Linked DNA regions of Homo sapiens: region 2 is linked to region 1. Evidence: fine-mapped expression QTL. A gene starts in region 1. The other region holds a variant in brackets. All regions are shown on one strand. Distances are between the middles of the regions. Region 1 holds the start of USP3 (ubiquitin specific peptidase 3). Region 2 holds the start of FBXL22 (F-box and leucine rich repeat protein 22).

The links.
Region 2: its variant is fine-mapped to the expression of USP3 in whole blood (TOPMed, PIP 0.99).

The regions. Positions count from the first base shown.
Region 1 is chr15:63,498,248-63,511,129 of GRCh38, forward strand. USP3 (ubiquitin specific peptidase 3) reads left to right here and starts at 6,346. Exons shown (of 15, transcript NM_006537.4): 1 at 6,346-6,583. The coding sequence starts at 6,493. RefSeq lists enhancers at 4,626-5,419, 4,898-4,947, 5,420-6,212 and silencers at 5,938-6,277, 6,628-6,737, 6,808-7,007, 7,078-7,157.
Region 2 is chr15:63,582,408-63,597,971 of GRCh38, forward strand. USP3 (ubiquitin specific peptidase 3) reads left to right here. Exons shown (of 15, transcript NM_006537.4): 12 at 5,898-6,016; 13 at 6,295-6,408; 14 at 6,537-6,604; 15 at 8,254-12,226. The coding sequence ends at 8,419. FBXL22 (F-box and leucine rich repeat protein 22) reads left to right here and starts at 14,980. Exons shown (of 2, transcript NM_001367807.1): 1 at 14,980-15,338. The coding sequence starts at 14,986. It overlaps USP3-AS1 (USP3 antisense RNA 1), which reads right to left. Exons shown (of 3, transcript NR_034080.1): 2 at 12,288-12,379; 3 at 5,303-6,693. RefSeq lists enhancers at 8,058-9,257, 12,299-12,348. The variant A/C (reference allele first, on the strand shown) is at 12,210.

The sequences.
Region 1 (12,882 bases):
CTGGTGATGTCATTTTCACAATTAAAAGGCTTAAAGCTCCGAGTCTAGACAGCCCTTTGACTGAAACTCAGAGGTTCTGATGTCTAATCAGGCAACTAATGAGCAAGGGGAAATAAGTGATACCACAACATTTTCCATCTTGGTAGTGGCAAAGAGATGTCAACAGAATGGAAGACCCGTGTAGCCCTGAGCTGCTGAATCTTCAGTGCCTGGCACGTGGTAGGGCACAGACAAGATGTGCCGAATAAATGAATGTTCGAAGACAGAACACAAGAAGGGCAGACTACAAGCCTAGAAGACCTGTTTCATTCTAGGCCTGGCCTAATGTATTTCTCCTATTTCCTTCATGTGTTATTGATAAACAAAACTGGACACTGAAGTATTTTTGTCATGGGCAGCTGTTCACAGCCCTAGCCAAGGCTTTCCTTTTTTTTTTTTTTTTTTTTTAGATGGAGTCTCACTCTGTCACCCAGGCTGGAGTGCAGTGGCGCAATCTCGGCTCACTGCAACCTCCACCTCTTGGGTTCATGTTGTTCTGCTGCCTTAGCCTCCCGAGTAGCTAGGATTACAGGCGCACGCCACCACACTCAGCTAATTTTTGTATTTTTATTAGAGATGGGGTTTCACCATGTTGGCCAGGATGGTCTCCATCTCCTGACTTTGTGATCTGCCCGTCTCGGCCTCCCAAAGTGCTGAGATTACAGGCGTGAGCCACTGCGCCCAGCCCCAGCCAAGGCTTTCTTGTGATTTCTGCTCAGACAGCGTTGGCTAAAATGGCCACACCTAGCTACAAGGGAAGCCGAGAAATTTCGAGTTGTGAAACCAAGAGGAAAAGAAAGCACATTTGGTGTAAACAGCAGTCTCTTCCACAGCACACAAAGCAGTGTTGCCTCTGCTGGTGTCACTGGATGACTGTGAACTATCACCGGATTGCTGGATTCTCTCTCTGGAAAGGCCCTCAATGGTCATTTAGTTCAACCCCCGATTTTACAGATGGAAAGAAAGATTGGGGCCCAGAGAGAAGTGACTTATCTACTATCAAAGAGTTGTTTGGGGCCGGGCAAGGTGGCTCACGCTTGTAATCCCAGCAACTCAGGAGGCTGAGGCTGGAGCCACTGGAGACCTGGGCAACATAGTGAGACCCTCTCTCTACAAATTTTTTTTTTTAATTAGCCAGGTGTGGTGGCACATGTCTGTGGTTCCAGCTTCTTGGGAGGCTGAGGCAGGAGGATAGCTTGAGCCCAGGAGTTCAAGGCTGCAGTGAGCTGCGATCCTGCTCCAGCCAGGACGAAAGAGACCGTGTCTCAAAATAAATAAATAAATAAATAAATAAAAGTTGTTTGGTGCTAGAGCCACACTGTTTTGCTTAATCTGTCAGTGCTTTATCTGCAAAGTGGGTCTTTAAACAAGAAAACCCCCTCATCTCCTTCATAAAAGGAGATTTCAATGATAAAGAGGAAAGCGTTAAAAGCAGTATAAGTCAATATGTTGATGATGCGGTAATTACAACAATGGCACCGAACATAAATCTTTCTTCAGTTACTCAGAGGCTTGTCTGTGTCCTGTGGTCACTAAATGACTCCATTATTCGGAACTTTGGCTTCTCCTGTGTAATACTGCAAAATCATTGACATGACCATGTGCATGAGGGGTGAAACCTTACCTCTTTTGATAAAAGACCAGTTACTGATTGTGTAAATTTGTGCAATTATTTAACATTCTTTGAACTTTAGTTCTCTCACCAGTAAAATGGAGATGATAATATCCACCTCCAAGGTTTTGTTTTTGTTTTTGTTTTTTTGTTTTTGCATTGGTAGGGGGGAAGGATTAAAGAAGAAATAAAAACCATAGTATTTATTGGGTCCCAACAAGTTGCCACAGTATCAGACACCTAGTTGGGACCCAATAACATGTAAGTTTCCGTTCTCAAATAGTTGAGGTCCTTTCTCTGAATACTTAGGGGACCATATCATATAATTATTGCTGTAATCACTTTAAAAAGGAGCACTTCCAACAACATTCAGTGGACAAATTTTTTAAGATCTGCTATTGCTGAACTAGGTGCTGAAAATCCTCAGATGAAAAAAAAAAAACAAAACACCTATTCCCAAGACAGACTGAAATGTGAACAGAAAATAACAGCACCATGTGAGAAGTGTGCTTGGGTGAGTGACGGAGGGCTTCCCGGAAGAGGCTATGTGCTTCATGGGGAAGGAGTAGGAGCAGACCAAGTAGAAGGGGACCAGACAGGGGAGGACACGGAGGTATGAGGAAGCACAATTTCTATGAGGGGACTATTTGAAATACTTCTGTAACAGTTAAAAAAAAAAAAGTTATAATAAAAGGGAGGGGCCAGGTACCTGTGAGAGCAGTGGGTTTTGGATTTTTTCCAAAAGGTGGGGAACCACTGAAGAATTCCAGCAGGGAGATGATGTGAAAGGGGTAAATGGGAAGTAGTGGGGAGAATGACACCACCAGTATTCCTGAGTGGGGAAGTGAGAGCTGGGTGGTTGGAGCCCACACCCACCCCTCTCCATTTATTTAGTCATTCAACAAATAGTTACTGAGGGCCTGCCACCTACCAGGCTGTATTCCAGGGGCTGGAAATCAGGCAACCAACAGCACTGGCAAGATCTTTGTTCTCATGGAGACTGACAATAGATAAGCAAGTAAACATGCAAGGAAATATTAGATAGGTGCCACTAGGAAAATTAAACCAGGCAACAGAAGAGTCTCTGAGCGGCAGCGGCCCATTCCCTGCCCCCAACACTTACCAAGCCTCCTCTTGATATAACTTTGGTTTCCCAAGGAGGCGTTGCTCCTAGAACAATCTCTATGGTAAATATTAATAATTAAGCCATCTCTCGGAGTGTTTCCAATGAGCCTTCCCTGGGTGAGGATAGTCAGAGCTAGTTTTCCCCAGGGCCTGGTCTGCCTTGTAATTGTTGGTTAAGGACCATCAATTCTGCCAAAAGTCCTAAGTTTAAGGTTTTAGGAAAATCGCGGCAACCTTGAGACCTTTCCTGAAGTGGTTCCCCTGCAATATATGACCTTGCCCTCCCCTCACTACCGACCCCACTTCCATGTATATACACAATTATCCTTTAGGAGAGAAACATTTGATAGTACGGTTGCAATTTTGCATTCCTCCCCTTTGAAAAATGCAAACTTTTAGAACAGGCCCGCCGCTTCGGGCAGGTTTTGCCGCGGAAACCACCCTCCCTCCCCGCCCCCGGATGTCCAGAGGGCTGGGTGGGGAATCCCGGGAGCAGCGCACTCAAGAGCACGGGAGCTGGAGGCTGGAGGCTGGCTCGTCACCATCAGGGCTCCCTGGGATGTAAGTCAGAGCTCCTCAGTGCCAGAGGGATGCGGGCCAAGAATAAAAACGCGAATGTTGTATTAAATGCAGCTGAAGAAACGAGGGACTGAAAAGGCAGATTTCCCAGTGTGCCTCATGGTCTTCCCCCATTTGACTCATTTACTCACTGCGGGTTTCTTTTTCTCCACTCTTTTCTTATTATGGAAACTTTCAAAGACACAGGAAAGTTCACTATTTTAGGGAAATCTAGCAAACGCCCCAGGAGGGCCTCTCTGATTTTGCCCAACTTCTCTGGACTGCCTGATAGAGCTTGCCCTCTGGGGACTATCACAATCGGGACTAAATTAGGGCCCCTGCTCCCAAGGGTTTTTATTCTAGCTGGGGAGAGAAGTCACTAATGGAAACTTTTTTTTCCCTTAAAATAGCTTACACCTTACAAAGCACTTTCACATTCCTGATTCCGTTAAAATCATAAAGCTAGAACTGAAAGGAAATTTAGAGATCATCTCTAGGGGTCAAATATTGGCAAATATTGGGCCACCTGCTAGGCTCTTGCCCATGGTAGACATGGCTAACATACCGCACACTCACCCGTTCATGTCATGTATTCACTTACTTATCAGACATCCTCCATGTTCTACATTGCATGTTAGAAATAAAGCAGAAAACCAGACAGACTTGTTTGCTACCTTATGGACAAACAAGAGGAAGAGAGACATTAAACAAATAATTACACGCATGAAGAGTGTTTTTAGGCCGGGCGCGGTGACTCATGCCCGTAATCCTAGCACTTTGGGAGGCCTAGGCGGGAGGATCTCTTGAGCCCAGGATTTCGAGACCAGCCTGGGCAATATAGGAGACACTGTTTTTTTTTTTGTTTTGTTTTTTGTTTTAAGTGTTTTTAAAAGCCGGTGTTGGGGCAGACAAGGACATCACACACTGGGAGGTACCCTGCGGGTGGGAAAGGGTCGGGAAAGACTCCCTCAGGAAGTGATGTTTAAACTGAAGTCTAGGGGATTAGGAAACGGAGTCTCTGAGAGGGTGAAGAAATATTACATACCAGTATGAAGCATGGCCTGAGTGAGGTCATGCTCCAGGGCCGAACAAGGGGTTATGGATGCTAAGTGGGGGTGGGTGTCCGGAGGAAACAGAAGGTTGGTGGAGCAAGGCCTTAAAGACAAATAGGTTGACATGGAGAGATGGGTGGAAGAACTTGAGCCAAGGGCAGATATTATTGTTTCTCCTCCTCCCGCTTCCCAGGGAAGCAGCTCTCATCTAGTGTCAGTAAAAACAAATACAAAGTTATAATTTATTGGCCACCTAGTATGTGGTGGCAATTTTCATGAATTCTCACATGTTCCTTGCGAGACAAGTATTCTTCTTCCAGTTTTACAGATCTAGAAAAGGCTTGGAACGGCTAGAGACGCTTGCTAAGCCTGGCCGTCAAGTAGGCAGCAGAGCTAAGATTTGAAAGCATGCCGGCCTGCCTTCCTAGGCAGACGCACTTTCCACAACGCATCACTGCCATAAAAATCCCAGGCCGAGGCTTGCTCTAACAGCAAATACCACTTGGAAAAGGACAGATCTTTGAGGACCCAGAAATACTTCTGGGGAAAGGATGAGCAGAGGTGCCCCCGGTGGGTGGATACCATTAGGCAGAGGTCTATGCGGAAGAGGCCGACTTGTGGCGTGGGAGGTAGGGAGGAGTAAGAAGTGATTGACGGGGCGTCCCTGGCTGCTCTAGGACTGCATTGCGGGGAGGTGCCCGGCTCTAACCACTGCCCGGCCCGGTTAATCATTTCCTGACCTTCCTTCCTCCTCTCGCTCTGGCCGCAGGATTGCCACATCAGTCTTCCCCCTCCTCCTGCTCGCCTTCTGGCCCCGAGGCTCCTTCGCCGGGTTTTACAAGGAGCCCCAACTTGGAAGCAATATTTGTAATAGCCCCGGACGTCCTCAAGTGCCCCAGTGAGATCGCAGGCTCGATCCAGGGTATGCCGGCCCAAGCGGCCCCTTGAGGCTTGCCCTCTTCTCTAATCCCTCACTAAAAAGAGGTCAGAGGGTCAGGGATCCAATCTCCATACAGATCAACAAGTTACAGACTCGGTTTCCCCCTGCGGTAAAAAGGGGATGGTAACAGCTGGTAGGGTGTTGCGAGGCTTAAATGCGGTATGGGAAGTGCCTGGCTGGGAGACCTTAGGTATCTAACAAATGCTAGATCCCTTCCCTTCTTATCGCCTGGTAATGGGGAGTTTAGCTTGCCCAGCAATCCCAGGCTACGTTTATCTCACTTGAACTTCCTGGCTTGAAAGTCCTACGATGTGCTGGAGGTAACGCAGATGGTGAGTCACAGTGACAGGATTTGAACGTGGGTTCATGGGCGCCCCTGCGGGCCCACCCACGCAGCATCTAGGTGGCTGGCTAACGCCACGTGTTCAGAACCTAGAAAGGGCTACGGATCGCACCTGCCGCAAGGAGCCTAACGCTAAGTCGGGCGGGACTGCCCTGGCACCCATGAAACCCGCTGCCCGCCTCCCCCGGGGCCAGGCCCTTGGCCTCCCCAGCTTGTTTCTTCGTGTATAAAATGAGGGCCACGGTGCCTGTCTGCCCGAGAGGTTTTAAAGTTCTTCTTTACACTTTGCGGAGCGGCCGGATTTTTACCACGAAGCCACCGAGTAGTCCGCACCACATAGGTTCAGTATCCTCCGCCCACCGCAGGAAACGCCGCGGACGGCCCGGGGTGCCCTGCTCGGCGCCCCACCCTTCCCGGGGCCGGGGAAGCGGCGTGACTAGGAAAGTCACTTCGGAACACAGCCGGACTCTGCGCCACCAGCTGGAGCTCGCCGGGACCCCACCCCGCGGGCTGGGCGGGGGCGGACCCGGGGGCGGGGCGGGGAGGGGCCGGCCTGGAAAGGCGGAAGCCTCCAGTCTAGGGGTGGCTGCAGAACCCGGATCTCGGAGTTACACGTTCTACGGAGCGGGGCGCCGGGAGACGGCGGGCGAGAAAACCCGGCGTCCGGAAGCCCGTGCTTTCTTTGACGCAAGGGCTCGAGACGCAGCCGCCGTCGGCCGAGCGCCCGGCTAGAAGCGACACCAGACGGAGCCTCCGGAGTTCCTCCGCCCCCACCTCGCCGGGTCCTGGAGCCGCAGTCCTCCCAGCTGCCCTCCTCGTGGCCATGGAGTGTCCACACCTGAGCTCCAGCGTCTGCATTGCTCCGGACTCAGCCAAGTTCCCCAACGGCTCCCCGTCGTCCTGGTGCTGCAGCGGTGAGTGCGGCCACGGGCCGGCCCCGCAGCGCACCCGAGGCCGCGGCTCTGCCGGGCCTGCCGTCTAGGGGCCGCAGGCGGCCGGCGCGCGGACTCGGGGAGGGGCGAGGGCGAGCCGGGCCCGGCGGGCTGGGGAGGGTACGCGATGAGGCGGGCGCGTGCGGGAGCGGCGGCGGCTCCTTTGTTTCCCGAGGCCCGACGGCCGGGCCAGCGAAGGAGAGGGCCGCGAGGGGCGGGAGTCCGCGGAGGCCTCGAGCGCGTGGGGGCAGCGGCAGGCGGGGACCCTGGCCAGCTGCGTGCGCCCTTGCCCCGCCCTGCCGTGGCCGGGGGCTGTGCCCGTCCGTGTTGCGGGGTCGCCTGTGGGGCGGGTGTCCGGCCCCCGAGGGGCGGCCGCACGTGTGGCGGGGCCCGCGCCGCGCTTCTCCGCAGACAGGGCGGGAAGAGCGCCGCTCTCCGGGCGCAGCTTTGTCTGGGCTGCGGGGCGCGCGGGGCTCCTCTCCTCCGCCGAACCCGGCCCGGGTTTCCTTTCCCTTCTCCGCAGGCTCGGGCACCTCGAAACCCCGAGAGGCGCTGGGAGCTCGGGCGGCGGAGGTCGGGGTCTTTCATCCGTCAGGGATGGTGAAGTTTGAAAACAGGCTGCGGGCTGAGAAGCTCGGAGGCTGAGCCAACAGCTGCTTTGGAGGGGACTGCTCGAGTTTGTTTTTCAGACCTTTTGGGTTGTCCGAAAATGCGTTGGGATTCCCAGTTCCTGTGTTGTGAAACACTTATTAGATTTATATAAGGCTTTTGAGTAGCTTAAGCGTTTTAACTCCTGCTGGCCCCCTTGGAAGCCCCAGTGCCCTCTCATTGTCTGCTCTAAGCGACTTCTTAGGATCGCACCGGCCACACGGCTTTGCTTACTTCCTGGTAGGGCCCTGGTGCCACCGCTAGTCTTTGTTTATTAGCTTTGAGATGGTCACTGGTATCTTGGGTTATATTAATAGCGTACAATTCGAATTGTGCACTTCAGAAATCTGAAGTTCATTTGAAGAAATATAGAAAAACGGCAATGGTATGATTTAGCTGTGACATGTCTCATTGTGGGCCGGAGCTGGGAAGATAGTTTAGAGAATGCCTTAGCACTTTTGACAGCTTACTACTTAAATAGTGATTATGTTCTTGGAAACAACATCGGTAGGTCCACAAAGAAAAATGTACTCTGGGATAAGGAATAGAAATAACTGCGGTTTCCTGGCGCGCTCAGACGTCTGATGCTTTGCTTGCCTTTGTAAAGTCAGGTATCTTTTTCTGCATGAAGCCTTTGAAAATTAACGGTTAATTGGTTTCACAGAGCAGTATTGCAGTTCTTTTGTGAGGATGCAGAAACTTGTGTAAATTAGCTTTTACCTGTAAATCTGTCGGGATGTTGAGTATAGAACAACAAATAAGGTGTATGGCACTGCTTTACAAATTGGTTGGTGGTGGTACATTAGCTATAACTGTAGCCATTGCTGTGGTGCTATAATTGTAACTTAATTTTTTTCCCAAAAGAAATTTGAAGAAAAAAAAAAAGACCAAAGTAAACACTAGGAGAAGCCTACCTCACAGGGAATGGTGGGATTGCTCTTGCTCATCTGTAGTAAACTACAGAAAGACAACATGGACAATTAGCACACTTCTGGCATTTTTTAGGTAAAATCACATCAAACTTAAAAATGGCTTCACTGGGCACATACATCTAAAAAATGGAAAAGAACTGTGCAAGTGGCAGATGCCCTCTTGTGAGTCAGTCTTGCCTCTGTCAGTCAGGGAGTCCACTTGACTGTGAAAAAGAGATGCAGGAAATTGAGCATCTCTTGAGGAACTTAATAAGTTAAAATGGAGCATAACGAGATGTGCTGATAACAAGAATAAACTAGTATGTGGGGTGATTTCTGTTCAAGGGGTAGGATGACATCTTTGCATCTTGCAACAAAGTGTGTCTGACATATAGCTTTGCAAGCCTGGGTCTAGTCACTTACTTGGATTTGTAGAACCAATAAAGCGAGTTTCGCAACTTTGTGTGAGTCCACACTCTGAATTGAACCCATTTTATGTAGGCCTCCCGTCTTAACCCGTTGGCATCCATTTGTTGATATAATCTAGCGTTATTGTATTAAGCTTGATCTTGTTCTTGCGTGCCTGTCGTTTCAGTGATTAAATGATGAATCTGTGAGTCCTTAACTAACTCATTATCTTGGAGTGTTATATAGTCGTATTTTTTTTCTCCCACACTCTTGATTTTATTTTATTTTTGTTTTTTTCATAGGGGACCAAAAGGGTAGCCGATGTGTTGACTAATACTGTGACTGGGTATTGAATCTGATTATGTTCTTATTAAGGAGGGGAAAATCCCTGTTTTGGCACTGGGACAATAAAAGTAATGCCCTTGCCTTATTTTCTTTGCGAGTTTGCAATTATACCACGGTAAGACAGCCAAGCAAATTGCAAAATGCCACAACATTCTAGGTTCTACCAGTTAGCAGTACCTAATTGGACAAATAGTTCTATTTTCTTTGAGTATCAGTTTCCTTATATAATCTGCAAAGAAAAGGGTAATACTTTGCATTTACTTCACAGGTTGCTGTTAGGATGAACAAGGTAATTTTTTGTGAAAACTTTGAGAAACTTGTATACACTGTTCTAGTAATAGGTGGTATTAGAGGTCAGAACATCTTTGTAAAGAGGACTCTGAATAATTAAATATCCAAAGCCCATTAAATGGGGACTAGAACAGACTGGCTTTATGCTGAATGATGCTTTACAGGGAGATACAGAACTCAACAAGATTACAAGAAGTAAGAAGTAATTATACTTCAGAATTAGCATGAGCTTCTTATCCATGGAAGGCACTGTGTGTTGGGTTATATAATTGTGTATGACAGTGGTTCTTACACTTTTTGATCTTAGGACCCCTTTACACTCTTAAAAATTGTTGAGCACCTGAAGAGCCTTCGTGTAGCTTATATCTGTTGATGATGTTTATTAGAAATTAAAACTGAGAAAAACTTAAAATATGTATTTATTAATATGCTTACAAATAATAATAGACCCACACCCATAACATAAATTGACAGTTTATGTAAAATGTTTTTCAAAACAAAAATTTAGTGGGAAGAATGGCATTATTTTGCCTTTTTGTAACTCTTTGTTCAGCTTTATAGAAGACAGCTGGATTCTTACATTGCTTCTGCATTCAGTCTCTTGAGATGTCACATCATGCAGCCTCAGGAACACCCCACTGCATGCTTGTGAGAGAATGACTGTAAACAAAAGTAACATCTTAAATATTATGTATGAAAATTGTTTTGACCTTCTGGATCCCCTGAATGGGTCCTGGAAACTTTCAGGGGTCCAGGACCACACTTTGAGAACCCACTTGTGTAAGCTATAGTTAACAGTTAAGGATACCTGCTCATATCAAAATAACTTTAAAAAATTAGAGAAATCCTTAAGGCTACCAACGTTTATGTTTCTGTAGAGACCTGAGGTTTTTGAAATGTATTAGCTGGGAAATAGAGCATGGGCTCTAGTAGTCCTTTGCTGCCAAAAAAGTTAACAGTCTAATCTAGCTGGGGGAGAGACAGGAAGCTAACTAGTTAGAAGATACATCCATGTGGTTTAAGGTAAATGTTGAAAATAGCTATCTCCTAATAACGTAAAGGCTGATTTATGTCTAATTGTTGCTTAAGGGATTCTAGTTTAAAATGAAAAAGTTTTAAATAAAAGGGCATTCTCTCAAGCTTTTTGTTATGTGCACATACCAGATGTTATTTTCAGAAGTTGGAGGCTTGGGCATTCCTTATTTTTGTGGGTAAAAGAGTTTAACCAGTGGGAAAAAACAAAAATTGTTTAAAAAGATGCCCTGAATGCAAGTGTTTTGATAACTAAGGAAAGCCAAGGACCAAGCATTTGAACTTGAGGGTTTGGGTTAAACAGCCAGTTAAATTAGAGATATTTAGTAGGATAGGCATGCTAATTTTTCCCTGATTAATTCTTCAATGAGTTGAGAGTGCCTCTTTAAGTTTTCAGTACACACTTGCCTTCATATTACTCTACCCAAGAAAAGTAAGTGTAGATCAAGTAAATGTTCTGCAATTTTGCACCAAAAACTGCAGATAATTCCACCCAAAATACTGGAGATAAACCCTTTTTTAAGAGATCCATTCAGTAGGATGAGGTGTTGATTATTGGTTGTCAGTGGTAATAAATTTGTAATGGACTGATCAGGTTGTGATAAAGAGAAGAAATCAACCTTGATGGAGTGATGGGTTATTTTGTATCGTATTTCTCCACAACCTACATTTAACACTCGTTTGCCCAGTGGACTAAATTTTCTAAATACAATCAGTCATTTCCTTGTCATTAGGTCAAATGCTTTTACTGCTTTTTAGTAACATTCTATGATGTCTTTATTAAGTGCCTAATACTTAATAGAGCAATTAGTAAATATTTGCCTGATAAATAAAGGAACTATCACTTAGATGTGTCTGGCAGGGTCTTTATGTTGAAAATAAACGCAGAGTGAACTTTCCCCAGAATGCTTTCACTAGCCCGCACTCCCAGTATTTTAGTCAGTAAACGTTGGCTGGATTGTGAGCAAATGACCATCTGCAGTGTTGTTATCACAATGAATTTGTGTTCTTTTGGCAGTCTGTATTTATAGATGGGCAGGTGGACAATTTAGTTGTAAATGTGGATGGGGTAGTTAAAAATCAGTGGACAGGTGATACTTTTTTCACATTAATTCTAAAAAGTAGTATTTGAGTTTTATATATCCTTCTGAAGAATTTAAACTTTTTTGGTAATATTTATAAAGCTTAAGTCAAATGTCTTTCTAGTCTTTCTGCAGTATTCCTCCCCAACCCCGTCCCCCAGAATCTTAGAGCAATCTCAGCTTATTTCTAGAGTCTCTAAATGATTGCTCATGGATGTGAAATGTGTGAAATTTAGAATGTGCTCCATGTATGTGTTTTGTTTAAAGAAGCTTCAGTATAGAGATTGAGCCTAACATTTACTTGTTGTGAAGAAGTTTTGACACATTGATGAGAAGTTCTTTCCCTAATAATATGCTTAATAGTGTATACAGAACATCCTTCATGGTCTAAGCAGAAGAAATGATGGAGTTGGGGGAAGAATTCGAACTCTTTGGTGTGGTTTCCTGTTATTTATCCTCAAAATAATTTATTCTCATTCTTTGCTTGTACACCATTAGCCTTAGGCTCGTGTAACAGCCTCCTTTTTCCTCATTGAAATGTATGTAATTTCCTTCTCCACTGGAATATAAAAGATTGATTTTGGATCCTTCAAGCTAGATTTAGAAATACTTATGTTTTTATAGTGTTTGCAGCTCAGTGAGTAGACCAGTGAGTAATTTAGTGTGTAGCTCAGTGAGTCATTTAAATTCCTGTTTTAAAATTTGAGTCCCTCTTCCATCAGGAGCTGATTAACATGTACATTTCCCCTAACCTAACCTGCTCGTTTTTTTTCTTTTTGAGCTTTTCTCCCCTTCTTGAGCTTGTTTGTTTGTTTTTAATATTTTTCCTTCTTTGAAAACAAAATGTTAGTCTCCTTTGATTAAGCTGCAGTCTCTGACCTACATACATACAGGTTTGTGTTCAACCAAGGCATTGAAATAAATAGATTTAGTCGGTAGATTATCATTGTTTGAAGTGGAAAAGGTATGCTGTTTAACATATTTTGATATTTTATGTTTATTCATTGCCTCTTTAGACAGGAGAGCAATTGCATTCTAGGTGTGTTAATAGAGCTTTCCTGGACAGATGGCTTGGAAGGAAGTACTTTGATGGGTTCTCAGTAGGGGCTAGTACTTTTTGGAGGGTGTGTTTGTGATTAAGCTTACCTTGATTGACAGTTTAGAATGCTGAGAATAGCATTAACAACAGTAACAGCTTGTTCATCTTACCTAGAATTGTCTTGTGCCAAGACCCCTCAAGATGCTCTGAGATTTCTGTGTAGTGGTTTCTTTTGAGAATGTAGGTAAGAATAGGTGTCCTTGAGACTGAAAAGAAATTCACCTAAAATTGTTCATTGTGGTTGTATCTTAAAATCTTTGGGGTCGTTGAATGAACTTTGGCTTAGAAATTTGTAGAGATCGTCTTTTTAACTGCTGTGAGTCTGCAGATGTGATTATCTATAGTAATTCCAGATGTTTTCTCATCTATTAGTTTTACTGAGTAGGAAGATAACTGAGAACAACATAAAGTAACTTCAAAGCAGTTTGCTAGCATTTAATCCTGACTAATTTAATTAATTATTCA
Region 2 (15,564 bases), 86 kb after region 1:
TCCCCACCTCTTGGCAGGCAGTACCAAAAGGGAGAACAGAGAGGGGTTCTCAAGGCAGTTAGGGCCACCATTTTTTAAACTGAGGGTTTGAAAAACCAGGCTCAGCTTATATTGCCTCTTTATGAATCATCTTATGGGCCTGACCTGATCATGTCTATTCCTTTTTGGTATCTCATGTGGTCTTAGAAGAAAAGGACTAACTTTCCATTATCTTGTGCATAAATCAGCAGGGAGACCACTACATGGTCACCTTGTAAGTTTAAGCAACTCAAAAAGGCAGGGAGGAAGAAAATGTTGGAAAGCAAGAAGATGCTGGAAGATGCTGGGAGAAGGCATAAAGAGCCTCCTTTGCATTGGAGAGAAGATGAGGACAGGAAGGAAGGCTGCGAGAGGTGCTTTGGTTTCAGAAAAGGAGCAGGGTGATGGCAGGGGCTTTGCCTGGCAGGTAGAAGGAACAAGAGAGCAGTCTAGTATTTATGTGCATTTCACATAAATGCAGATGAGTTACTGTGAAATGTTGATAGATTCTTTCAGTAATCTCAGTGCTCCTCAGGGTATCAAATTCCTGAAATTAAAGCTTCTAAACAGTTACTAAAGGAGATTTAGAATACCACCTGCCAACTCAGTAGTAGCCCTCTGAATGACCCCATGCTTCCACACACGGGGAGACCCCTTCAGAAAGTGGGTCTGTACAGGTTAAATATAGGGGGGGGAAAAAGGCTTCTCTGCTGTTGAGGCATTTCTGCTTCTCAGTGTTGTGTGGCTAGGTAGCACAGGCAACAATGTCTTGCTGGTGAATCATAAACCATCTGGCTAATGGGATGGAGAGGCTGGAGTGACAGTATTTCAGAGTCATACTCTCCCTGCCTTCTTATTTGCCTGTGAAAGTTTCAAGCAGACATTGTCAATTAAAAAAAATGAGCTAGGCACAGTGTGGCTCATGCCTGTAATCTCAGCTACTGGGGAGGATTGCTTGAGCCCAGGAGTTTGAGGCTTCAGTGAGCTATTTTATACTCCAGCCTGCATGACAGAGGAAGAAGACCTTGTCTCTTAAAACAATTTTTTAAAAAATTGTGGTAAAATATACATAGAATAAAATGTAACATTTTAAGTGTCTTAAGTGTGTAATTCAGTGGCATTAAGCACACCCAAAATATTATACAACCATTACTACTTGTAAAAATTTTTGTCATCCTAAACAGAAACTCTGTACCCATTAAACAGTAACTCATTACTTTTCCTCTCTTGTTCCCAGTAACTCTTATTGTATCCTCTATGAATTTGTCTATTCTAGGCACCTCATATAAGTGGAATCATACTATATTTATCCTTTTGTGATTGGCTTAACTTAGTGTATATTCAGGGGTCATCCATGTTGTAAGCATGTCTCAGAATTTACTTCCTTTTTGAGGCTTAATATTCTCTGGTATGTATAGACTACATTCTGTTTATCCATTCATCTGTTGACGACACTTGGGTTTTTCCCACCTTTTGGCTATTATAAATAATGCTGCTATGAACACTGGTGTAGAAGTATCTGAGTTCCTGCTTCCAGTTCTTTTGGGTATATACCTAAGAGTGGAATCGCTGAATCATAATTCTGTTTAACTTTCGGAAGTACTGCCAAACTTTTCCACAGTGGCTGTACCATTTTACATTCCCACCAGCAAGGTACAACGGTTTTGTTTTTTTTTTTTTTTTTTTTTTTGAGATGGAGTCTCGCTCTGTCGCGCAGGCTGGAGTGCAGTGGCATGATCTCAGCTCGCTGCAACCTCCACCTCCCAGGTTCACGCCATTCTCCTGCCTCAGCCTCCCTAGTAGCTGGGACTACAGGCACCCGCCACCATGCCCGGCTAATTTTTTGTATTTTTAGTAGAGATGGGGTTTCACTGTGTTAGCCATGATGGTCTCGATCCTCCTGACCTCGTGATCTACCCGCCTCGGCCTCCCAAAGTGCTGGGATTACAGGTGTGAGGCACCGCACCCAGCCGGTACAAAGGTTTTAATTTCTCCACTTGCTAGCTAACACGTTATTTTCTGCTTTTGTTTTTGTCTTTTAAATAACAGCCATCCTAGTAACTGTGAAGTAGTATCTCACTATGGTTTTGATTTGCATTTCCCTAGTAATTGTGATGTTGAGCATCTTTTTATGTGTCTGTTGGTCATTTGTGCCTCTTTGGAGAAAAGTCTATTAAAGTCCTTTCCCCATTTTTGAATCAGTTTGTTGCTGAGTTTTAGGAGTTCTTCATATATTGTGGCCATTAATCCCTTATCCAGATACATAATTTGCAAATATTTTTCTCCCATTCTGTGGTTCTCTTTATAGTATCCCTCAATACACAATTTTTTAATTTTGATAAAGTTCAGCTTATCTATTTTTTCTTTTGTTGCCTGTGCTTTGGGTGTCATATCAAAATCATTGCCAAATCTAATGTCATGAAGCTTTTCCCCTACATTTTCTTCTAAGAGTTTTATAGTTTTAAGACTTATGTTTAAGACCTTTGATCTATTTAAATTTTTGTATATGGTGTAAGAGTCCAACTTAATTCTTCTGCATGTTGATACCTAGTTTCCCCAGCACCATCTTTTGAAAAGATTGTCCTTTCCCCATTGAGTAGTCTTGTCATTCTTGTCAAAAATCAGTTGACTATATAGTAAGAGTTTTTTTCATTGGTCTGTATGTCTGTCCTTATGCCAGTGCCATCCTGTTTTGATTACTATACCTTTGTAGTAAGTTTTAAAATTGAAAGTATGAGTCCTATAACTTTGTTGTTCTTTTTCAAAATTGTTTTGGCTATTCAGGATTCCTTGAGAGTCCATGTGAGTTTCAGGATGGGTTTTCTATTTCTGCAGAAATTTCTATTGGGATTTTGAGAAGAATTGCATTGGATCTGTAGATTGCTTTGGGTAGTAATAATCATGTTAACAACATCAAGTCTTCCAGTCTATGAATGCAGGATGTCTTTAAAAATTTCTTTCAGCAATGTTTTGTAGTTTTCAGGTATAAGTCTTTTGTCTCCTTAAATGTATTCCTAAGTACTTTATTCTTTTTGATGCTACTATAAATGGAATTATGTTAATTTCGTTTTTGGAAATACCTAACAATGAATACATTGTTAGTGTATAGAAATGCAGCTAATTTTTGTGTGTTGATTTTGTATCCTGTCTTTTCATTCCCTTGACAGTATCTTTTACAGAGCAAAAATTTTTAATTTTAATGAAGTCCAACTTATAAATCCTTCTTTCATGGATTGTGCCTTTGGTGTTGCATCTAAAAAGCCATTGCCAAATGCAAGGTCATCTGGATTTTTTCCTATGTTATCTTCTAAAAGTTTTATACCTTCAGTCCACTTTATTTGTTTTTGTGGAGGGTATAAAAGTCTGTGTCTAGAATTTTTTTTTTTTTTTTGGCATGTGAATGTCTTTCAATTTTGTTCTTCTTCAATGTTGTATTTGCTATTCTTGGTCTTTTGCCATTCCATAATAAACTTTAGAGTAATTTTGTCACCATCCACAAAATAATTTACTGGTTTGAGATTGCACTGAATCTATAGATGAAGTTGACATCAATATAGAATAAAACTGACATCAATAGTGAGTCTTCCTATCCATGAATACAGGATGTCTTTATGTCTTTTAAAATTTCTTTCAGCAACATTTTATAGCTTTCAGGTAGTTAACTTTTTAACTGTAGGGTTTTACATGAGATCATGTGATCTGTCAGCAGAGATAATTATACTTTTTCCTTTTCATTTTGGATGCTTTTTTCTTGCCTGATTGCTTTAGCTAAAACTTCCAATATTATGTTGAACAGAAGTGGCAAAAGTGAGCATCCTTGTCTTCCTGATCTTGGAGGCAAAGCTTTCAGTCTTTCACCATTGAGTGTGATATTCACTGTGGGTTTTCATATATGGCCTTTGTCATGTTGAAGTTCTCCTTTTTTCTAGTTTGAGTGTTCAAATGATGATTTTAAATGTGGAAAATTCTGTGTTTCCTTTCCTTATTTCTTATTCTCCCTATGACCCCCGCTGTCCCCGCCAAGGCCATAGCTTTTTACATGATGTAACAAATACTTGCTGAAGAAAGCACCCATGACTTCAGCTGCAGAGCTCACAAGCACCATAGTGATCAGTCTGAAGGGATTATTAGTGCCAGCCAGCCAGTCTGCTGTGTAGTCAGTGCTCTTTCTTTGTAGCCAGAGATGTAGGACTTGGGAGGCTCCTGAGAACAGCATCACTCTATTTGCAAGTTTGGTTGTAATGTCTGAGACTTGCTTCAGGAATTGTAATGTCAAAATATAATACATCCTTTCCCAGGAACCATCACTGACATAAAATAGCAGGTTGAGCAGGTTGGCAATGTAGTATTTGTGGGAAATTGAGGAAAGAATGGTTAACTGTCCACTGGAGGTTGAGAAAGTCTCAAAGAAGTGAGAATTGAATTGAGTTGCAGGGAGGCGAGAATTGAGTTGTAGGGAGGCAGGCATAGGAATGTGCCTTCTAGGTACTAGGATCAGGCAACAAAGGCATATTCAAGACTGTCTAGTCCTCTGCCACACCTTGCCTCCACTAACTTTCCCTGAAGGGGCGCTGTCTGCTACTGTCGCGGACACAAAGGCTGACTATGGCTTGGAAACTTGAGTACAGAGACAAGAGCGCTTTTCTGTACACAGCTAGGTTTCTGCTTGCTACCCAACTTTAATATATTATTTAAAGATACATACATGTTCTATAAAGACAAATGACATAAAAGTCAGGATAATGGCTACTTCTGGGCAGAGGAAGGGGAATTATCTTTGGTAAGAAGCACATGGCCACACAGGTTGTCCACTGCACAACTCTAGGAGAGGCCGTGCACAGAGACCCTGGCTCCTTGAGTACTCGAGAAAATCCAAGTGTGGGGTCCATAGGCATTCATATTTTTTCTACAGAATAACGTGTATTTTATATAGATTTATGAATATCTGATTGCATCAGGAATTGGCACAGGGGCCAAAGAGTAAATACAGTAAGTCTTCATTTAATGTCATCAGTAGGTTCTTGGAAACTGCAAGTTTAAAGCAAAATGACATACAGCAGGTCCTCCAATAATAGTTTCCTTTAACGTTTAGTTATAACATTGATGAGAAAAAAGTGGTTTATCGTTGCTTCACATAAGGTCACAATTTTCAAGAACCTGTCATGATATTAAGTGAAGATTTACAGTGTTTTAGGCTTTGCACCACATAAGGTCTCTGCCCCAGTGACTCAGTTTGGTGTAGTGTAAAAGCAGCCAGACAATAATGTAAACAAGTGGGCATGGCTCTGTTCCAATGAAACTTTATTTACAAAACCAGGTGGCTGGCTGGATGTTTTAGGACTGTAGTTTACTAAACCCCAGGTTACACAATTACATCTTTAAATGAAAAAAAATGTAGCTGTGATTTATCTAGGAACTGAGAGTACAGCGTCTGGACAGAGAAGGTTGATAGTGTAGCCTTCTGTGATCTATGTTTATTTTTAAATTATCTAAATTTGACTTTTTTTTATGAGTTTGGAGCTTTGTCCTGTATAATGTAACATATTGACAGAAAACTACAATTGAAACTTTAAATTCATCAGGAAACCATTTTATCAGAATTATCCAGATGAATTATCATTAATAGTAAAACCAACACAATTGATCATCACCAGATGTCAGGCATGATGCCAGGTGCTCTACACATTATTTCTCTTCCTTATAATAGTTCTTCAAAGTAGGTATTATTTTTTGTCTCCAGTTTGCAATTGAGAAAGGTTAACTTTTCTAAGGTCGTATAGCTAATAAAGCTGAGATTTTAAACCTGGGTCTTTTTTCTACAGTACATTGCCTCTACAAAAGGCATCTTGTTTTAATGCTGCCAAAATCAATTTGTTTAGATTGTCTTCGCAGTTTTACCGACTTAGAAGAACTTGATGAGACAGAGTTATATATGTGCCATAAATGCAAAAAGAAACAAAAGTCCACAAAAAAGTTTTGGATTCAAAAACTACCCAAGGTGAGTGTTGAATTTTGAGTTATGAAGCAATTTCAATGGGAAAGTGCTTGACTGCTAAGACCATGTCTATAACTTTACACTATGTGAACTGTTCTGTATTTTTCTCTAGGATTTTCAGTAAAAGCTAAACCCCTTACAGAATGAATGCATAAGGTATGCATGGAAGAATGATTGATAGGGCAGCTAAAATGTTATTTACTGAACTGATAGTAGTATCAAACTTTGACTGAAAGGTAAATTAGGTGTTCACAATCTTTGACCGCATCTCTGTCCTCCAGGTGCTATGCTTACATTTGAAAAGATTTCATTGGACAGCATATTTAAGAAATAAAGTTGATACATACGTAGAATTTCCACTGAGAGGCCTAGACATGAAATGCTACTTACTAGAGGTAAGGTGGTTACCTTTTTAGCATGGTGAAAAAATGGCTCTTCAGTAAGATTGTCATCACATGGAGAGGGTAGAGGTCATCGAGATACTGATGTCATTGACCACTGCTCCTTCTTCCTTGTTCTGTAGCCTGAGAACAGTGGCCCGGAGAGCTGCCTGTATGACCTCGCCGCTGTGGTGGTGCACCATGGTTCCGGGTGAGTACAACAGCCAGCTTCTGGTGGGTGGGAATACCTGGTGGCCAGCCCAATGACCTGCAGTTTTGTACCACTCTTGCTAGTTCTTCCTAAAAAATGGATTCAGATAAAGTAGGTGAAATTTCCTTCAGTTTTGGTGCGGAAGAGTACTCCTCAGATGATGTTGTGAAGGCTTAAGGGAAGGTAAATAAAAGTGAAATGAAGAATGGTTCATTTGAACCCAGTATTTACGACCCAGTCTTTATTTGTCCACAAACTCCAAAGTTGCTTATTCGTTTACCAACTGAAATTTAAATGGGGCAAAAGGGGAAATTACTTGGAATAACTTACTCCATATCATCTACTTTAAAGACTCATTTTAAGTCTTGTTAAAAAACATTAATTTTTTCCCCTGAAAGTTTGTATGAGGGGTCTAACCTTCTGGTTTTTGGTTTGAGAGTGGCTATTTTACCTTCAAACTTAAGACTACTATATGTGGGCAGACGACTATCCATGTTGAAAATCCTTTTCCCGCAGAGCTGTGATAAAGTAACGTCTACACTCACATAGTGTTATGAATGACAAGTCTGATTCTCACTACTTTACAGGCACCTGGCTTTTTTCTCCTTGGAGTGTATTCCTGCTTGGTAGTTGGTAGGGACACTTTTAATTTGGTGCCTTCAGCTCATGAAACTCTCTATACTGTAGGTCTGAAATCATTTGTTCTCTGTACCCCTATTATATGCATAGTGAATTTCCTGGATCTCCCTTCCACATGTCTTAAATACTCTAATGATTTCTGTCTGTGTTTCTAAAGACTGCCATGGCCTACTTTTCCAAATCACCAATTTGGGTTTCATCTGTATCCAAATAAAAGATAAGCTCCTCCATAAAATATTTATATTAAATCAGTCACATTTTTCTGACAACTTTTTCGTAACAGCCTATTCTTGTTTTATGATTGCACTATCTTTTTGAAACTATTAGCACTAATTTAAAAATGTAAAGTTCTCTTAGGTTTTCTGCATTCAATTCCTCAGGGTTGATTGCCTTGCTTGTTCTTCCCGGTATTTCTTTCCCCTCAAAAATGTGATTTTGTAGGCGTGCAAAAGGCTTGTTTTTAAAATTTGGTTTTGGTGGTTTATTTGGAATCATAGTAAATGATGAGATGGATCTTTATTATTTAAATAGGGTTTTCCTGGCACCTACAAAGGTCTGTTCTAGCTGCAGGCCTTCCGTCTGACTTGGAGGACTGACTCCAGGGTTGTGTGTGTGAGTGGGTGGGTCATGCTGATAGGGTAGAGCCCCTGATGACCACGGTGTCAGGGAAGGGTGCCCTTCTTTGTTAAGCTTAGTTTTTTCCTAAGATTCTGATGGGAAAACCTGGTACCTAGTTTTCCATGTTTCCGTAGGCTTTGACCTGTGCTTGTTAGGTTGCGAGTTCCTCATCTCTGTTTTCTCCATTAGTCCAGGGCCATCTGCTTTGTGTTCTAGCAAACCCTCGATTTCTGGTCAGTTTGGAGGAAGGTAAAAACATTAATTTAACAAGCATCTTAAATCAAAAGTCTAGGATGTATTCTTATTAAAATTTAAATCTAACATTATATAGTTGTACAGGTCTTTTTGTGATTTCTGAGGTTCTTTTTTCCTTTGGTCTTTTGCCTTTACAGGGTTGGTTCTGGACATTACACAGCATACGCAACTCACGAAGGCCGCTGGTTCCACTTCAATGACAGTACTGTAACACTGACTGACGAGGAGACTGTGGTGAAGGCGAAGGCCTACATCCTTTTCTACGTGGAACACCAGGCCAAAGCTGGATCGGATAAACTTTAATACCTCCTCCAAATCATCATTCACCAACCATACCAGAGAAACATTTCCAGTTTTCCACAAATACTTGATACAAGATTTAATTTCATTATGCACTTTTCAATTTCCTATTTTGGATTTAGTTTTGTCAATGGTAGTGACTTACTGAACATGGGCACCAACTAATTTTGTTGTTGTTCTACCAGAAAACCTCAGCAGATGTTTTGATTTGCTGCTTTAGTTGTAATAATTCAATTTTTATAGGTAGTTGTAAGAACTTAGTCTTATTTGACTTTTTTATTTTATGTTAATGTTTTCAGTTCTCACTTTGAGGCACATTTACATCAATGCTTTTGTTCCTCTCACATGCTGAAAGCAAGATGTGTTCCTTATTGTGAAGAGCGACACAACTGCCTGCTGCCTTTCCACAGCTATAATGGACATCAGGTTGACTCTAAATCAAGGATCATGTGTGCACAATACTTGTGGCCCACAAAATTTCACAATGACTGCTGAGGAATCATTCTTTTTGCCTGTAAAATATAACAAAGGGCATCATTAAGTAGACCAGGTAATTACTGCTTGTCTCTCAAGGCTGCTGTCTTTATCAGCACTAACTAAATAAATTTGTTGGTTCAGTTGTACTTGTCCTGCAAATACAAGAATTACTCTCTTTGTTGGTTTTTTTGGTTTTGGGGCATACTTGTTTGCGGGGAGGTAAGATGGGAGTAAAGACCAAATACATGTAATGTTTAAAAAAAATGCTGTGACTCACTGACATGGTATAGGTGTTACCAGTGAGGTAAAGCCATGGCGTCTGCCTCCTTTTGAATCAGTATCTCATTCCCCCTTAGTTGTACCACTGGAAGTCACGACATGTCCATTATAGACTTACTTACTGCTTGTGTTTGGCATCTGAGTCTGAGGTGTGACCCTCTGGGATTTACTTGGATCATCACCCGCACTTCAGTTTATCACTGGGGGGTGTGCTTCCACAGGAGGAAATTTAGAATCTTCGCTGCTCTGGGTTTTAACACCTCTCTCTGGCCTATCCTGATTGATAGGACAAGTTGAAAATACTGTTGGAGTAAGTAAGTGGAGTTTTCGTTTTGTTTTTTGGGGGTTTTTGGAGACAAGAGTCTCTCTCTGTTGCCCAGGCTGGAGTGCAGTGGCACGATCTCAGCTCATTGCAACCTCGGCCTCCCGAGTAGCAATTCTCCTGCCTCAACCTCCTGAGTAGCTGGGATTACAGGTGCCCACCACTACACCTGGCTAATTTTTTTTTTGTATTTTTAGTAAAGACGGGGGTTTACCATGTTGGCTAGGGTGGTCTCAACCTCCCTCCTGACCTCAGGTGATCCGCCTGCCTCAGCCTCCCAAAGTGCTGAGATTACAGGCGTGAGCCATCACGCCCAGACAGTTTTGTTTTTAAAAAACAGATTTAACTCAAAGATTCAAATTTGGAACCAGAATCCCATTTAAAGAAAGCAGTTGTGGTTTCTACAAGTGTTCTAAGACAGTCCTGTGGTGGTTTTTTTTTTTTCTTTTTTTTGGTTGGGGGCGGTGGGGGTTGGTAGACATAGCCTACCAATTCTCCACAAGGGACAAAATGTATCTTGTGTTAAGCCAACGAGACTTTCTGGCAATTTTTTTTTTTTTTTTTTAATGGAGTCTTACTCTGTCCCTCAGGCTGGAGTGCAGTGTGGCATGATCACAGCTCACTGTAGCCTCAACCTCCCAGGCTCAAGCGATCCTCCCACTTCAGCCTCGAAGTAGCTGGCACCACCACACCCAGCTAATTTTTAATATTTTTACTAGAGATGGGGTTTCACCACGTTGCCCAGGCTGGTCTTGCACTCCTGGGCTCAAGTGATCCACCCACCTTGGCTTCCCAAGGTGCTAGCATTACAGGCATGAGCCACCACGCCCAGCCTGTTCTATTAAAAACATCTTGACCTTTTTTTTTTTTTAAGTTTATGATATAAAAACAGTCTGGTGGCTTTCCCTCAGGTTGGATATCTGAAGTTGTGGGAGCAGATGTAGCTCCATTTCCATTTTAATATTAACTGGATAAATCCCACATCTTCCCAGAACACATCTGCTAAACACTTTAACATGACAAGGAGCAAATTACAATTATGTGTAAACTTATATCATCCAGTACAATGGCCCCTAGCCACATGTGACTGAAATTTAAATTAGAAACTCAGTGCCTTCAGTCACACTAGCCACATTTCAAGTGCTCAGCACCCACATACGGCGTAGGACAATGCTGGTCTAAATTTTCACTCCAAAGAATAAAACTTTGCCATCATGTTTAGGTCTTACAACTTTGAGTCCTAAAAGATAATAGGGAGATGTGTGCTTAAATTAATTTACAATGCTAAATTATATTAGGTTAAACTGTATGAAACCCTGCTATTTGATGAGTTCTGATCTACAAAAATGACAGCTCCACCTGATCTGATGTATCACACATTAACATCACATCTAATTCAACCTGAAATGTGAGTCTCCTTTGATCTTGCAAAGTATCTCCTATGAATCCGGGCTCTTTTGCTTAGAAGGTAGACAGCTGTAACCTCTAACATTGATACTTCGATCTTCAGTCTCTCTGAATGGGCAGCTGTTAAACAGTAAAGGCCTGGGCAGAGTTGATGGTGAAAAAAAGCTGTATTTTTATACCAAATGGAACTTCAGCAACACGTTGGACTACTTTGTCGGGCAGAGTGGTCTTCAGACAGGTGATGCTGTTGGCTTAAGAGATGAACACGTCTTCTCTCTGAATTTGTTTTTATTGGTTGGTTTTACTTGAACAGAAACGTTTGAATGGTGTGAAGATTCTTTAGAAAAGTGATTGGATCCATCTCAATTGTGCACTTGAACAGCAGTGATGTAAATGTGCTTATTTGTGTTTTCATTTTTAACTGTGCAGCCTTACCACACCTATTTTGAAAGCTGATCTTTTGTCCTCTTCAGGGCTTTTCCCTTGTGCCATGTTGTCTCCAGCAATATATGTGGCTTCTGGCTCAGAGCTTCTGCTGAGGCAGGGCCTCGCGCTGAGTCACATGGCTCCTTGGAACAAGAAAACTTTCTCAGAAGTCCCCACACGGGTGGGTGACAGAAACAGTTTGTGGCAACACAAATCTCTCTCCATGGTGGAGAAACCTTTGCTTATCCACTGTATTCTACTCAGTGTATAGTGATGACAGATGTACTAGAATTAAACCAGTCAAGTGTACTGGCCCGGGGTGAGTGTTAAATGTGTATCTCGCCTGTGGAACCTACTCAGCAGCTTGGTTTCTGGGGTTGGGGGCATATTTATTTCTTAAAGCCAAACCTCTCCTTCATTGGTTTAGTGTACATAAGTCTATTTAGATACACTTATCCCACTTTAATCTCCACCAGCCCCTAAACTCTCTCCTGTACCCTCTGTTGCTGAAGTGGCCTCTTCACCTGGGCCCTGGAAAAGCCGATGGAAAAAGTCTGTTCCTGCAGCCAAGGCCTGGGTCCCAGGTGACTAGGAGTAGCCATAGGAAGGTGAGGAAGGAGAAGTGGGCATGTGGTGTCATCTGTAGTCCAAGGTCTCTGCGTCTCGTCAGTGGGTGCAGTGCCTTCCCCCTCAGGTGTGAGCGTGATGGACTCTAGACTGCCTTCCATGAGTGTTGGTCATGCTATGATGTCATCATTTGCCATTAAAACCCAGTTTGTATGATGCCAAGAGGATTAATTGTGCAAGTGACTGATTCATTTAAATTGTAATCACATCCCTTTTCTGCTTCACCAACCTGAACTGTTTTTAAAAATATCATTA[A/C]AAGTCTGTTCTCTTTCCTTTTGACTTATTTCTGAACACCTTTTTTCAGTAGAGCCACATAAATGATGATGTACTTACTCAACTCGTGGGCCTCCTCAGTCAACAGGTAGCAAGCTCTTACAGAATCCCCACGATTTGGAGCTGCAGTACCTGGGCCAGGATGAAGTGACCTGTATGGGCAAAGTGATGGCCTGGAGATGAGTGCCTGCAGTCAGGTGCCTGAGGTCCCACTCGGCCTTGCCCAGTGAAATCACCCTCAGTCTCTTGTGACTATTGATCTTATAAAAATGAGGCCCCTTCCCTTCCCCTTTAGAGCTAGACTCTACCCTGAGGCACTAGTTTTGGGGCTCTGAGCAAAGGATACTGGTCATCTTTTAAGGTAAAACAGGCAAATAAGTGCTTTTAAATAAACATCCTGTTTACAGTAAGTTCCTATAGACTACTTCCCTGCCCCCATGCCTCCTGCAGACAGAACCCTGTTTCCACAGTCATCCTTTGCCTGTTCTTGTCAGTCTTCTAAAATTGAAGACACAGGTGCCTGCAGCTCAAATTGTTATGCATCCTTGTTCCGTAGGGCACATTCTTTTGGCAGCTGTGCTGGTCAGAGGCTGCGTGGTTGCTGTCACTGCTGCCAAACAGCATAGCTCTGGACAAGCCCAAAGGGGCAGAGCTTCGTCATCTCCTGGCTGTGCCTCAGACCCTCTGCAGCATGCAGGAGCACATTCCCCCTGGCCCTGGTAGTCTAGGATGCTTCCTGCAGCCTACCTGGAGGAACAGCAGAGGGGCAATGCTCTAAATGTTCTCCCTGCCAATCTTTTGCCATTCCAGCTGGGCTGCAGTAGTGCAACTTGGAAGCCATGCTGAAGCACAGTGACACTTACTCAGTGGAAGGCACAAGTACCACTCTGGCCTTGCAAGAAGTGGAAAGAACCACCTATTCCTAAGGGTCAAACCCTCTGAAAAGCATTGGTTTGAGGAGGATTGGGGAGGGAAAGTGGAGATAATGTGGCTTTCTAATAACACCACCTGTGGTTTTGCAGCATCCATTTTAAGTGGAGAAGTACACCTAGACAGAGCCTAAATTAGGGTGTCAGCTATAATTCAGAACTACATTGATGAGCTTGAAATAGCAGCAGTATCTTGCTCCCCTTCCTTGGGAAATGCTTCCTTTCGACCTCCTTGGTTTGTTTTTAAGAGAACCCCCTACTGTACTTCATCTTGGCATGGTGGAGTAATGGAGGCACAGGGGCACCAGCTGAGGCTGGCTTCTCAGGAAAGCCACTGACAATGGCTACTTCCTTCTTTGCTTGACTGCCTTCTGCTTTAAAGGCAAAGCTGCACCAGCCCTGACCAAACCTTAGTTCCAGAAGTGGGTTCAGCATAGGCTGCTTCATTTGTGTCTATGGGAAAACACAAGGATTCCCATTCCCTCTTATTCCAAATGGGAGAACAAACAGAAGTAACCACTGAGGTGGTGGTCCCTGGGCTGGCAGAGGAAAAACCATTCTCTTCTCACTATTGCCTAGGCAGAACGTGGCCTATACAGCTGCACCATATCAGCATCCCCCAAGCAAACCAAAAAACAACGACTGGGATTCAAAGCAGGAGAGTTAAGGTTGGGTCCTGGGTTTGGGAGTGAAGCAGCATGAGGAAACGGGTCTGCCATATCGTGAAGCCTCGGGTACTCAGGAAGGGGGAGCTTCACGGATAGTACCTCCAGGCACCTTGCCTAGAGTTGAGTCAGAGAGGGCAGGGGTGGCCCACTGGCTTCTCCAAGAGGGAACGGAGGGCACTCATAGAATGGATGGTGTGTGGTCAACTTAAAGGCAAAGATGGACTAAAATACTGAACTTAAAATTGTTTCAAGCAGTTTCACATTAAGAGCTACCTCATCCATCCTGACATTTTGGGAAGTACAGGTTATACATAGTACAAGGCCTTATCAGTGAGAAAATGTAAAGCCAAGTAAATTTAAATTTAAAACACAGAAAGTACTGCTTGACCAAAACTACAAAAACAACAACAACAACAACAAAGCACCAATAAAACATAAAACACAGACACACAACTTTGGAAAGCAGCTACTTCAGTAAAATTCTTTTATGAAACAACTCAGGGTAAAAATCTAGCTGTTGGGGAGGCCCAGGAAAATCCCCCTGCCTAGTGGCAGGCAGCAGGGCTTGAAGGCCAACCAGCCTAGCCTGGAGACAATTACTCTATGGCACAAAAATAACAGGAATGAGGCAGCAGCCATGGACTCTGCTCACAACTCACAACCGTCACCCTTAGCTCTCCACACGCAACAGGTTTCTTCCTAGTAAGGGTGGAGCAAAAGATTCACACTGATGTACTAGAAAATCAAAACAGTTAACATTTACAATTACACTCCTTCCCCCTAAGTACAGACTGCAAAGCCAGACAGAGCTGGCCTGGCCGCCACCACTGCCAATGAAAACGCCTTGGGAAAAGCCAAAAGTGCTCACTGCTAAACACCATTGTCAGCTAAAGGGAAAAAAAAAATCCCTTTTAAGGAAAGTAACTTCAATAGGCTCCTTTTCTGCCAGGACCTCCAATCCCTCTGAACATAAGCCGAACCACAGACTGCCGCACATGTGTCTGGGTCCTGGCTTTTCTTCCCTCACCCCTCCGCAGAGCTTCAGCACCAGTTGTTAGCCAAAAATAAACACCATTCCTCAACCATATATGTCCACCGGCCCAGAGTCGGGGAGGAGGAGAGGAGGCAGGTCAGCCGTCCCCCGGCTGCAGCTGCACTCACATGTGGCCACTGCTCACCATGCACATAACCCAGCTCAACCGGGAGTGCCTGCTGCACCTCTTCTCCTTCCTAGACAAGGACAGCAGGAAGAGCCTTGCCAGGACCTGCTCCCAGCTCCACGACGTGTTTGAGGACCCCGCACTCTGGTCCCTGCTGCACTTCCGTTCCCTCACTGAACTCCAGAAGGACAACTTCCTCCTGGGCCCGGCACTCCGCAGCCTCTCCATCTGCTGGCACTCCAGCCGCGTGCAGGTGTGCAGCATTGAGGACTGGCTCAAGAGTGCCTTCCAGAGAAGCATCTGCAGCCGGCACGAGAGCCTGGTCAATGATTTCCTCCTCCGGGTGTGCGACAGGTAGGCCACCTTGCCTCCTGAGCAGTGCTGGCCCCGCTAGCTCTGGCTTCCCTCTTGGGGGGCAGGGAAGAGCAAATTACGAGACCAAGATGGCTCCACCTTCGGGGCGCCTCAAACTAGGCCCAAGGCAGACATCCAGACCGCCCAAAGCAGGGTCCCCAGGAGACAATAAAATCATGAGGGAAACAATTGCTAATCCTCCTCTTAGCCTCACAGGTCCTGGGCT